3 linked regions of the Homo sapiens genome follow. The protein of the gene in region 1 interacts with the protein of each later gene in a pairwise test. Each region holds a gene or a part of one and is shown in the gene's direction. Other genes may lie near its edges.

What was found. Proteins that work in one complex are often made in the same cells at the same time.
Region 2: the proteins of RNF39 (region 1) and RINT1 interact in binary tests that used the Homo sapiens proteins (3 or more experiments, as listed by UniProt).
Region 3: the proteins of RNF39 (region 1) and AP1B1 interact in binary tests that used the Homo sapiens proteins (3 or more experiments, as listed by UniProt).

What each region holds. Positions count from the first base shown.
Region 1 is NC_000006.12:30,071,899-30,077,630, reverse strand, and holds the start of RNF39 (RING finger protein 39), read left to right. Parts: upstream 1-1,861; 5' UTR 1,862-2,045; coding exon 2,046-2,408; intron 2,409-4,152; coding exon 4,153-4,175; intron 4,176-4,382; coding exon 4,383-4,474; intron 4,475-5,732.
Region 2 is NC_000007.14:105,548,842-105,552,700, forward strand, and holds part of RINT1 (RAD50-interacting protein 1), read left to right. Parts: exon of another isoform or gene 1-126; intron 127-1,213; coding exon 1,214-1,324; intron 1,325-1,419; coding exon 1,420-1,645; intron 1,646-2,728; coding exon 2,729-2,866; intron 2,867-3,859. UniProt on the Homo sapiens protein: Involved in regulation of membrane traffic between the Golgi and the endoplasmic reticulum (ER); the function is proposed to depend on its association in the NRZ complex which is believed to play a role in SNARE assembly at the ER.
Region 3 is NC_000022.11:29,378,571-29,382,429, reverse strand, and holds part of AP1B1 (AP-1 complex subunit beta-1), read left to right. Parts: intron 1-3,859. UniProt on the Homo sapiens protein: Subunit of clathrin-associated adaptor protein complex 1 that plays a role in protein sorting in the late-Golgi/trans-Golgi network (TGN) and/or endosomes.

The sequences.
Region 1 (5,732 bases):
AACAATACACATTTGTTACTTTATTATTCTGTAGTTCAGAGTCTGAAATGGGTCTTACTGGGCAAAAATTAAGGTGTCAGCAGTGCTAGGTTCCTTCTGAATGGTCTGCTAGAGAATCCATTCCCTCGTCTTTTGCAGCTTCCAGAGGTTACCCACTTCCTTAGCTTGTGGCTTCCTGCCTCAGTCTCCAAAGCCAGCAATGTCAGGCCGATCACTTCTCATGCTGCTATCTCTCTATGCTACCTATCAGAGCATAGAAGTGCATCTTTTACAAAATAGATTTCAGTCACAACTGTAGTCTTATGCTTGGGTATCTGTGTGTTTTATGAGCACTGAGCCGGGAGGGTTGTTCCAAGATGAATGTACGTGTGTTTGTTTGTGTAGGTTTGTTTATCAGGGTGTCATATTTGAGTGTCTCCCCGATAAGTATGGGGGAGGCAGAAGAAGAGTGCCTGGAGGGGGTGCCTAATAAAGTCCTGCTGCTCCATAAAGACTTACTGCTGTTATACTGTTATTCTTATTAATAATAAAACTGATGATAGAGTATCTGTCTCTTTGCCTGTTTTCTTTGAGCATGTCCGTCTGTTCCTAAATAATACTGGACATTTATCCCAGTGATATTCAATGCATATGAGGCTATTCATACACATTATATTTAGCTGTGATGTTTGTATTACATGAATGCTTCTGTCTGCAAGTTTGTGCACATTTGGGCATTTGGACACTGATGGATGCAGACACATGTTATATAACAGTGTGGGTGATCATAGTTGTAGACATCTGGATGTTTACTTATGCACAAACCCCCATGAGTATCCAGTTAGCTAGGCCTGGCATTGGAAGGGTAGAGAAGCTAGGAAGAGGAGGGAGCAGGGAGGAAGAGGAGAGGTGGGGAGAGGAGCAGGTAAGGAGAAAAAGAGAGAATGGAGGTGAGGAATGAAGGCACAAAGGAACACCAGAAAAAAATCAGGAAGCAGGAGGGGGTCCCAGGGATCTGCAACTGAAAAAGGCAGGGTTGACTCACAGCAAGAACACAAGTCAGAAGACCAGGGTAGGGCTCCACTTCTGGTCATTCCCTTGCTATGTGACCTTGGCTATTCCAGTTCTCTGGGCCTCTGTGAACTACCAGAGTTGAAATAGATAATACCGGGTACATTCCAAAGAAGGAAGGAAAGAGAAAACTGGTAATAAAATCACACACGGGGAAAAACAGAGAGAAAGAACCAGAAAGAGAGACTTACGAAGAAAGTAAGGAGAGGCCCTGGGAGCTGGCCAGAGGTAGAGCTGAAAGAGCTCTGCCCCGACTCCCTGAGGCCGAAGTGTGGGCGCCTGCTCCCCACCCCTTACCCCAGAGCTGCAGAATGCCCTTAAGCCCTTAATAGGTAAGGAAGGAAGATGGAAAGGCGAGAGGCACCAGGAATGAAAACCACACATCAACACTCAGAGGCTTGCCAAAGCCACACAAACCAGGATCTGTGCTTCCGGCCCCCAGCCCCCAGATGTAGGTGTGCCAGCCACCTGGAATGACTCGCACCTTGGCAATGTGGGCGCACATGCCAAGAGTGAGCCTGGGCACCCGGCCCATGCGCGTACCACAGGCGGAGGGGAAGGTAAAATTGGGGCTCTTCGGGGGGTCACAGGGGGCTACCCTCCCCACACAGGGCTACCCCGCCCCAGAGCGCCCTCTAGTGACCGCCTCCTAGGCTCTGGGAACCAGGTGTGCTATTCTCCCCTCCCTGCTCCCCCAAACCTTACCCGGGAAGCAGGAGAACCAGATGAGGCGTTACGCAAGGCCTGGTGTTTACCTCCCGTGGGAGCCTCCTCCCTCCCTATAAAGCCTGATGTGGTGGAGAGATTTGACGAGACTGAGACTCTGGTTGAAGAGAGAGGCAATCCCAGGAGAGGGGCGGAAAGCGGCAAAAGTTAATGCGGGAGTCGGAGAGAAGGGCATCTACACAGCAAGCAGCAGGGGCGGCCCGCCATCTGCGCGCTCGAAGGCGGTCACGGTGGTCGCGGAAGGGGCGGCGTCCAGATCCTGGCTTTCCATGGATGCGCCCGAGCTGGGCCCGGGGCTGGTGGAGCGTCTGGAGCAGCTGGCGACGTGTCCTCTGTGCGGGGGCTCCTTCGAGGACCCGGTGCTTCTGGCGTGCGAGCACAGCTTCTGCCGCGCGTGTCTGGCCCGCCGCTGGGGGACTCCGCCGGCGACCGGCACCGAGGCTTCCCCCACCGCCTGTCCCTGCTGCGGCCTGCCGTGTCCCCGCCGCAGCCTGAGGTCTAATGTGCGGCTGGCGGTGGAGGTGCGAATCAGCCGCGAGCTGCGAGAGAAGCTGGCTGAGCCTGGGGCCCGTGCGGGGAGACGCCGAGGGGGGCGCATCCCCACCATGGGCTGCCTGGACCTGCCCGGAGAGGTGAGGCTGGGCGCGCGTCGCGGAGTTGTTGGTGGAAGCGGGAGGTTCCCGGGGAAGCCGGGAATGGCACGTCTGGAGCCGGAGGCCCTGTGGAAGTTTAGGCAAAGGATGGGGTGGGGAGAGAAAAGCAAAGGATGAGGGGGCGAGGACCCTGGGTCCTCAAGGTGAGAGGCGCCCGGAAGGACGATGGATGGAGTTGACACTTGGTCCACAGGGGAGGAGGCTGGACCGATGCCTGAGCCTTGTGAGAGGGGCTGGAGAGAAGAGACTGGGGAGGCAGAGAAGGGGTACCGGATAGAACGCGGAGAGCCCTGGAGTCGCCGCGAAGGGCATGGGAACTGCAGAAGTTTTGGCAGGGCAGCCGCAGGCGCCCGGGAGGAGGAGAGCTGGCGGAGGGGAGGGAGCGGCGGGCGGAAGGGAGAGCCGACCCAGCTGAGGGTGAGGAGGGGTCCTGGGAGGATGGTGGGCGAGGGCAGAACCTGCTTAGAGGAGCGGGAGCAGGAGGCTGGGCTGGTGGGTTGGGGGCGGAGAAAAAGCTGGGGAGGAGGGGACTGACAAGAGGATGGAGGAAGGGAGCAAGGGGTTGGGGCATATCCAAACCTCCCCGTAGCGTCGTGGGGGTTGGTCTCGGACTCTGGCTCAAGCTAAGCCCTGTGTTGTTTGTTATTGTTATTTCGGCTCCTCCCAAGGCCCCAGGCAGGAGCGGCCAGGGGTGGAGGCGAGGTGCGGGAGAACAGCCGCTGGGGCCTCTGGCTCCTCTCCACATCCCAGTCTTACCACCCATCTACCCCCCGCGCCTCTCCTGGGCCCCGGCTCCTTGGCCACTAACCAGCCCATTCCCTTGCCCGACCGACCCCTGGGCGTCTGGGACTCCTGACTGGCTTCTTCCCAGCAGCCAAGCTGGTCTTGGGTCTTGCTTCTGCCCTTTGAAGTCTTCATAGACCTAATTAGTCTGAAAGTAATTGGCACAATTATGCAAATTGTTTCTCTCTCCCCCGCTCCACCATATCGGCCTGCTCCAGCCATCAGCACTAGACAGTGAAGTGGAGGGGTCGGTATCCCAGTGTTTGGAGGGGAGCATCCAGTGCCCTCTCCTGGCTCCCATAGTACTCTGTGGATCTGCTGGGCCTTTTGGGACACATTCAAGTCTAGCTGCCTCCCTGGCCAGGGTCCAGAGACACAAAGCAAAGGGCCCAATAAATGCCACTGGGCTTTTATTGCAAGAGGGGAAGCAGCTTTATTGTAAGGCTTTTATATACCAACTCTTAGCCCGAGGGCTCTGGGTGTGTGTTTGGTCTGTGTGATGGAGGGAGGAAGGGACAGATGTTTTTCTGGGATGCACTGGGGAAGGTAGATAAGGATGGGGCCGCTGAAAGAGACAGAGAATGGGACTGAGGAGGCAGCAAGGAAGGCAAGGGCTCTGAGGACAAGAAACAGTCACGGACGAGCCTGGGAAAAGAGAATTGAGAACCCTTGGGGAGTGGAAAGGGGGAGGACAGTGGGGATGGAGTTAGGAGGATGAGGGAAAAGTGATGGGGTGAGAGGAAGGAGGGATCATGAAAGGTGAAGGAGGAGAATGAGAGGGAAAGGAGCACAGTGTGTAAAGAGGTGAGATCACTCTGAAAGGTGAGGAGGGACACTGCTAACTCAGACAGAACTCACCTGAGGAGGGGAGAGATAGGGAAGGATGCCCCAGGGAATGAAGCCCAGAGCTCACATCCATGTTTGTTTCTGCCCATCCTAGGATATGAGGAAGACATGGAGACGGTGAGTTCCACTTTTCTGTTCCCTCCTTTTCTCACCAGCTGCCATAGCCATCACGTTCTCACTGGGCCCACACCTTTGTTCCCATTAATAGGCAGGTTTTCTGGGGTATAGTCTCATCCCTTCTTCCTCCAGAGATGTGAGTGGGGTATGCGTGGGGGCATTAGGATCAGAGGGCTGATTTCCTGACCCTTCCCCTCATCTGTGTAGATTTGAAGTCCCAACATCCAAGTCATCTAATTCAGAGGATGATCTCCCTGAAGATTATCCAGTGGTCAAAAAAATGCTTCATAGACTGACAGGTAAGGAAAGAAGAAGGGAGGGAAGGGAATTGAATGAAAGTCTGTGTTAGATTTTCTTCCTTTTAGCCCTAAAAAGTGATCAGGTCCTTTTTGATGTCTGCATTAGTTTCCTAGTACTGCTCTAATGAAGCACCGCAAAGTAGGTGGCTGAAACAACAGACATTTATCTCAAAGTTCAGGAGGTAGAAGTCTGAAATCAAGGTGTCAGCAGTGTTGGTTCCTTCTGACGGCCATGAGACAGAATCTGTTCCATGCCTGTCTCCTAGCCTCTGGTAGCCTCACATGTTCTTTGGGTGATAGGTCTGCACATTTTCTTTTGTATGCATTTGTCTCTGTGTCCAAATTTCCTCTTTTTGTAAGTCAGCAATCTGGATTAGAGCCCACCCTAATGACCTTCATTTTAACTTGATTACCTATGTAAAGATCCTGTTTCAAAACAAGGTAACATTCTGAGGTTTGGAGGACTTCAACCTATCTTTGTGTGTGTGTGTGGAGTGGGGGAGGGCACAGTTCAGCCTATAACAATGTCTATCCTCGATTCCTCATATTCCAGCCATTTTCCCTCTTCCTTTTTCATACATTCAAACAACAGATCCCTGAAGGTTAGGTGCCTCTCAAAAATCTCTGCTTCCACCACCTCTCGTCACTCCTCCCTGGAAGGGGACCCCAGCATCTCCTTGACCCTTCTTTCCTCACTCACTCCCAAGAAGAAGGGTGCCTCTACCCTTCTTTAAACTGCCTAGAGAAGGTGGTCCACCATCTTGGTCATCCACCATCTTGCCCAGTCCAGATTGCTTCTGACACCCCTAATCCAGAAATTTTTCTTCAAAGCACCCCATACATATAAGGCCAATGGTTCTTTTTCTGGTCTCTGGCTATCACCACCTGCTCTCCTCCTCTGCCCCACAACCCCTACAGAAATAGGACTGTCCACCCCACCCCCCAATTCCTGTGGGTGGGTGGGCTGGTTTCTCAGGATACCTTGGATTCCTCCCTGTGCCCCTCCCATTACTTGAGGTTCCAGTATCAGTACGACTTTCTCTTTAGATGAACCTTCCCCATTTTGCTGACCCAGCTCCCATGCCCCACCCCAGATGATGCAGATTGAGGTATCAGTCCTTACTCCTCCCTCGAAGTCAGATCAGCCTCACTCTTCCTCCCCCAACCCCACAAACGAGACAACCTCTCATTTGATCTTCCTGCTGTGCTCCCTGCACTGGGCCAGTATGATCCTTCCCCAGGTCCAATTCTACAGAAG
Region 2 (3,859 bases), on another chromosome or scaffold:
TTTTGTTACTGCTGTTCATACATATAATTGAGGACTTGTGTTCATATACTGTAGGAAAAATGGTATTTCCGCTCTTGGGCATCAGATATTGCTGAGTTATCATTGCAAAACAAAGCAAAGCAAATAGTAAGCACTTGGTATTTCTTTTCTTTTTTTTTTTTTGTGAGTTGGAGTCTCGCTCTGTCACCCAGGCTGGAGTGCAGTGGCACAATCTCTGCTCACTGCAACCTCCACCTCCCAGGTTCAAGCGATTCTCCTGCCTCAGCCTCCCAAGTAGCTGGGACTACAGGCACATGTCACCACACTGGACTAATTTTTGTAATTTTAGTAGAGATGGGTTTCACCATATTGGTCAGGCTGGTCTGGAACTCCTGACCTCAGGTGATCCACCTGACTTAGCCTCCCAAAGTGCTGGGATTACAGGAGTGAGCCACTGCGCCTGGCATGTACTTGGTATTTCTGCTCTTAAACCTGTATAAGACATGCGTAGTTTTTGTAATGCAGACTAGCAATTTTTTTTTTTTGGAACGAAGTTTCACTCTTGTTGCCCAGGCTGGAGCGCAATGGTGTGATCTCGGCTCACTGCAACCTCTGCCTCCCGCGTTCAAGCGATTCTCCTGCCTCAGCCTCTTGAGTAGCTGGGATTACAGGTGCCCACCACCACGCCCAGCTAATTTTTGTATATTTAGGTGAGACGGGGTTTCACCATGTTGACCAGTCTGGTCTTGAACTTCTGACCTCAGCTGATCCACCCACCTCGGCCTCCCAAAGTGCTGGGATTACAGGCATGAGCTGCCACGCCTGGCCAGCAATTTTTTTCTTGATTTACTTTTTGAAAATAAAAACCATAAGAAAATAATATTAAAATTATTTTCAAATGCTATTTCAAAAAATATAGGCCATCAGTTCTTTGTAATACTCATCATTTTACATATTATTGAAGTGCTAGGTTTTAAATATATATGGCATTGTAAATTTATGAGTTTATTGACTTAAGTCATATTATTGAAATTTGTTGGGAGTACATTAGCAAACATTTGATTATTAAGCCTTGCAGGAGTTTAAAATTTGGAGTAGAAATTGTGCTCTTACATACAGGAATTTTCAACTAATTTTTATAAGTGTTGTGCATATACAATTAAATAGAACCATGTAATTGTAACTTTCTAATTGGAATGACTTAAGAATTCAAACTATTTTCCTCCTTCCTTAGCCAGAATGGTACTTGGCTCAAGTACTTATGTGGATTGGAAACCATACTGAATTTCTGGATGAGAAGATTCAGCCAATATTAGACAAAGTAGGCTCTTTGGTAAACGCAAGGGTAAGAGACTCAGTCATAAGTGTTTCTGTTTTAGAACTGTATGTGTGCATGGATAACTTTTTATTTACATACCTCATGTTTGTGTATTTTTTTAGCTTGAATTTTCTCGGGGCCTTATGATGCTGGTTCTTGAGAAGTTAGCCACTGATATTCCTTGTCTGCTATATGATGACAATCTCTTCTGTCATTTGGTGGATGAAGTACTCTTGTTTGAAAGGGAGCTACACAGTGTTCATGGCTATCCTGGCACTTTTGCTAGTTGTATGCATATTCTATCAGAGGAAACCTGTTTTCAGAGATGGTTGACGGTGGAGAGAAAATGTAAGTGCTGATGTGGCCAGATGGTAGGGAGATATGTCTGTTTCTGTGGGTATACATTTTTGATATTTTTCTTCTCCAGTTCTAAATAGGAACTAGAGCCATTTGAAATTTCCTTTTCAGGGTTTTCTGTTTCCTTCAGAGATAATCTTTTCTTTACTTCACATGAAACTTCCATTTTTCCTGAAATTACACTCTACATATTTCTAGAGTGGAATAGTCAAGCCAGTGGGGTGTTTGTTTTATAGATTTTATCATATAATTTATTTTATTTTTATTTATTTATTTTGGGACAGACTCTTGCTCTGTTGTCCAGGCTAAAGTGCAGTAGTTTGATCTCAGCTCATTGCAACCTCCACCCCCTGCGTTCAAGCGATTCTCCTGTCTCAGCCTCCCGAGTAGTTAGGATTACAGGCACGCACTACCACGCCTGGCTAATTTTTCTGTTTTTAGGAGTGACAGGGTTACAACATGTTGGCCAGGCTGGTCTGGAACTCCTGACTTCAAGTAATCCACCTGCCTTGGCCTCCCAAAGTGTCAGAATATTTTATTTTTTTATTTTTGAGATAGGGTCTCACTTTGTCACCGAGGCTAGAGTGGAGTGGGCCGATCATGGCTTACTGCAGCCTCGACCTCTGGGGCTCAGGTGATCCTCCTGCCTCAGCCACCCCAGTAGCTGGGAGTATAGGTATATGCAAGCCATGCCTGGCTACTTTTTGTATTTTTTGTAGAGATGGGGTTTCCCTGGGGTTTTGCCCAAGCTGGTTGTGAACTCCTAGACTCAAGCAATCCACCCACCTTGGCCTCCTGGAGTGCTGGGATTACTGGTGTGAGCCACCGTGCCTGGCCAATAGAATATTTTTTACTGTAGCTTATCTAGTCAACATAACTATTTTCAGAATTTGGGGATGGGAGTAAAGTATCCTGTTTAAAGCATTAATTAAGTTAAATTTAGTACAACCAGTGGGATATTGTAGGTTTGTTTCTTTTTTATAGAAAAGCCATCATTCCTAAAAAATTACAAGTTGAATAATTAGGAACGACTGTAACTACTTAATTGACATAATTGTTTTGTCTGCTTATCAGTTGCTCTTCAAAAAATGGACTCAATGCTTTCCTCAGAAGCTGCCTGGGTATCGCAATATAAGGATATCACTGACGTGGATGAAATGAAAGTTCCAGATTGTGCAGAAACTTTTATGACTCTACTCTTGGTTATAACTGGTAAGTATGTCTTTTAAGATATGACTTTGTTTTAAAAGTACTGTTTTCACGTGGTAGTTTTTAAAGTAGCTCAGTAGGCTGGGTGCAGTGGCTCATGCCTGTAATCCTAGCACTTTGAGAGGCTGAGACGGGCAGGTTGCTTGAGCCCAGGAGTTCGAGAACAGCCTGGGGTACATGGTGAAATGCCCTCTCTTCCGAAAAAATACAGAAATTAGCCAGTTGTGGTGGTGTGTGCCTGTAGTCCCAGCTACTTGGGAGGCTGAGGTGGGAGGATTTTTTGAGCATGGGAGGTAGAGGTTGCAGTGAGCCATGATCACGCCACTGCAGTCCAGCCTTGGTGACAGAGTGAGACCCTGTCAATAAAGTAATCAATAAATAAGTGGCTCAGCAAATTAATATTATATGATGGTTGTTATCTTCAAATTCAGTTTCTATATTGGTAGAAATCTAACACAATATTCTAACTTTTGGGTTTTTAATAATTTAAGGATTTAAACATTGGTATACATGAAGGAAAACTTCCTGAATAATTACACAAAAACAATTAAATAGGAATTTAATTTTATTATCCAAACTGTCTTGCTATTGGGCTTTTTAGGTGTCTTCAGTAAATGGTGATTGGCCTATATTTTAAATATTGTCTTGATCTTGATTTATCAAAGATTGCAGAAGAGAGTAAAATAATGAAGTAATTTTAAGGATTGGAGTAGTAATAGGAACTTTTGTTACAGTGCAGGGATTCTCTGGCTGGAGGGTAGCCTAGCATCCTCTGGCCCTGGTTGGTCTTTAGCCAATCACGTTGCCCCCTTGTGGGCCTGCTTGTTGTCCAGGTGCCACTGGACCCTCATTGCCACCATCCCTGGCCCTCTTCACCTTCGTCAACCACTAGCCTGTCCGTTTCTTAGGCTTGTCTGGTAACCTGAAGAAGTATCATTCCAGCCCAGTCAGTAAATAATTCCTTTTTTTTTTTTTTTTTTTTTTTTTGAGATGGAG
Region 3 (3,859 bases), on another chromosome or scaffold:
CACGAAAGATGCTCAGGAAATGTATGAATAAGAACACTGAAGGATGTGGACAGAGAAATACCTTCTTAAGGTTGTACATGCATGGCCAGGTGCCGTGGCTCATGCCTGTAATCCCAGCTACTTGGGAGGCTGAGGTGGGAGGATCATTTGAGGCCAGGAGTTCAAGACCAGCCTGGATAATTTAGCGAGACTCCACAAAAAACTTGAAAAGATTAGCTGGGCATGGCACACGCCTGTAGTCCCAGCTACTCAGGAGGCTGAAGCAGAATTGCTTGAGCCCAGTAGTTTGATGCTGCAGTGAGCTATGATCACACCCCTGCACTCTAGCCTGGGTGACAGAGCAAGACTATCTGTCTCTAGCAACAACAACAAAAAAGATAGTACATGTAGGAAAGGTATTTTTTTTTTGTTTCTTTTTTTAAGCATCAGAGGTATCACGCTGAAGGGAAGTTATCTTTGAAATGAGATCATCTAAGCTGAGATTTGAAGGATAAATTGGAGCAGTTAGGAGAGGATAATCCAAGCAGAAGGATCAGCAAGGGTAGAGATAGTGAAGAGTTGGCTGTTAGAGGAACAAAGAAGGCATGTGGGCCTGGAGGCAAGGACCTGGTACTTATATCCTGTGCCAGAGCCCCCCACCTTCTGCAGCTCTGTCACTCTGAGCTGATACCTATGGGAGCAGGTGAGAGTGACTTGGCCTCACTGAACGTTTCTCCCACTGGAGATGTTGCCACCTGATCTTCTACCCTTGCCATTTCTTCTCTCTCTCATAATTTATTCACTTAACTTCCATTTATTGGCTGTAAATGTGCTAGGGGTCTGGCATGTTCAATTTCAGTATAGTTAGAATAGCTTGACAATCAGAGCAGATGTATCTCTGATCCTGGATAACCCCGTGAATGGAACATGGAGAAGCTGCTCTAGCAGAGGTTGGTTTACAAAACATGAAATTTGCCCAAGAAGAGAGTTGAGCACTGGTCATTCAGCTACTTATTGAACACCTGTTTGCCAGGTACCAGCCTAGGAGTCAGGAATATGATAGTGAACAAAATGGACAAAATCCTTACCCCCATTTACATTAGGGAATTTATAGGGGGAGAAAGAATAGACAACGTAAGTATATTTTATAGTGTGTAGGTAATAGGTAATAAGTACTTTGAAGGGAAAAAGGGCAAAGAGGGTTAGGAAGTGGTGGGGATTATGGGGGAGGGGTATACAATTTTAAATAAAATGGTCAAAGAAGGCCTCAATGAGAAGATGACATTTGAGCCAAGACCTAAAGAGGTGAGGGACTGAGCCATGAGGCTGTCTGGAGAAAGAGCCTTCCTAGCAAAGTGAATAGCACGGGCAAAGGCCCTGGGGTGGATGCATGTTGTGTTCGAGGATCAGTAAAGAGGCCTGTGCGGCTGGAGCTGAGGGAATGATGGGGAGAAGAGTTCAAAGGGTAATGGCCAGCAGGGTGCATGCGTGAGAGAGGAGGGGCATGCATCTCTTATAGGACCTGTGGGCTATGAGGCCATGGTAGGGACTTTGGCTTTTACTATGAGTAAGACAGAGAACCGTTGGAAGACGTTGAGCAGAGGGGTGCTACTGTCTGATTTGGACTGTAAGAGGATCATCCTGGCTGTTGCTGAGATGGGGTGTCAGCAAAGCAGTGTGGGAGCAGCTTTGTTAGCACTCTAAATGGAAGGTGATGCTGGCTTGGAGCTGGGGTTAGTGATGGAGCTAGTGAGAAGCTGCTCATGGATTCTAGATTCATTTTGAAGGTCGGAATCCAATAGGATTTGCCGATAGATTTAAAGGAGAGTATGTTGTTAAGAGTGACTCAGGTTTTTAGCCTGAGGCCCTCTTAAAGATGGTGCTGGCAGGAACTAGATGATGTAGACTGCAGGGTGAGCCAGTTGGGGAAAGGAAGGAAGCAGGAGGTCAGTTTTTATCCCATTGTTTGAGCTGCCTGCTAGTCATCTCCACAGTAATGTGGAGATGTCAGTTACACAGTTTGGACATGTGTGCCCGGGGGTTCTGGGGAGAGGTTGGGCTATGTGGATGGTATGTAAAGCTGTGATACCGGATGATCCACCAAAGAGGCAAAATAGCATAGATGGGGAAGAGAAGAGGTACCAGGCCTGAGCCCTGGGGCACACAGTGTTGAAGGAGAAGGAGAGGAACAAGCAAAGGAGACTGAGAAGGCGCAGACAGTGGCGTAGGAGGGCAGGCAGAGAGCATGGCATCCTAGCATTTGAGGGAAGACAGGTTTTCAGGAAGGAGGGAGTGATCAGTAGTGTCAAATGCTTATCAGCATGAGACTTGTCATTTGACATGACCATTGTGTCTTCTCCTGGCAGGACCCAACACACCTGGCATCCAGAACCATTTCTGAATCTCATTCTTCCTTCCCTAGCCTCGTCTGCTCCTTTCCCTTCCAGGTCCTTTCCTTCAGCCAGGCAGCGGGGCTCACAGACTTCTTGTTTTGGCCTTAGGTAAATCACTCATCTCTCAGTGTCTCTAATTCCTTGTTTTTTAACTGAATTACCCTGAGAATTAAATGAGAAGGGTTGTAAATCACTTAGCAAGAAGCCGTTCCCCAGCTAGTGTTGATTTAATTGTTGTCAGTTCCCTCCGTTGTCACATTGGCAATTTCGTGGTGCATCTCTTTGCCACCTCCACTCTTGCCTCTCTAAATCTGACCTGTCTTTTTGCGTCAGCCAAGCCCCTCTTCATCTAAGAGAACTTCCCTTGCTGCTCCACCTATCTCAGAACCCTCCTCCTCTGGAGGCATGATCACTCTGCCGTTCCCCTGCAGTCCTTTACCTGGCCTCTAAATCTGTAAGAGCTCAGTGAGAAAAGACTGTCCTTTGTTTACTGTGTGCATGCTTCCGTGTGGGGCACAGTTCCAGGCATGGAGCGGATGGTGCTCTACACTGTTAATTTGACAGATCTTCAGAAAGTGTTCCCATTACATAGATGGGAAAACCGAGATCACAAAGAGCGTTGTTCTGTAGTCTCTGGCCTCTTTCTCCTCATCTCGATTAATTTAAGTATTGTTCAGAAGAAGCCTTACTTACTTTATTTTCAAGTCCAGAGGAACTTTTTCTTTTTTTGAGATGGAGTCTTGCTCTGTCACCCAGGCCAGAGTGCAGTGGTGCGATTTCAGGTTCAAGCAATTCTCCTGCCTGAGACTCCTGAGTAGTTGGGACTATAGGTGCGAGCCACCATGTCCAGCTAATTTTTGTATTTTTAGTAGAGATAGGTTTCGCCATGTTGGCCAAGCTGGTCTCGAACTCCTCACCTCAAGTGATCTGCCCACCTCGGTCTCCTAAAGTGCTGGGATTACAGGCATGAGCCACTGCGCCCATCACTTTTTTTTCTTCACAGCAGATCTTTCCGCACATTACGGCTTATAGATCAGTTCAGAACTGGTACCTGATTCTAGAATGGAGTTCTAGAGACTCAAAGCCAATATAAGAACGTTTGCATGTGACATTTGTCTGCCTTTAGTTCCTTTTCATTCTGAAGTCTTTAATTGCTAGTGGGCCTCAGGAAACTGACTTTTTTTTTTTTTTTTTTTTGTGGGACGGAGTCTTGCTCTGTTGCCCAGGCTGGAGTGCAGTGACACGATCTCAGCTCACTGCAAGCTCCGCCTCCTGAGTTCACACCATTCTCCTGCCTCAGCCTCCCGAGTAGCTGGGACTACAGGCACCCGCCACCAGGCCCAGCTAATTTTTTGTATTTTTAGTAGAGATGGGGTTTCACCGTGTTAGCCAGGATGGTCTCGATTTCCTGACCTCATGATCCGCCCGCCTCGGCCTCCCAAAGTGCTGGGATTACAGGCGTGAGCCACTGCGCCCGGCCTTTTTTT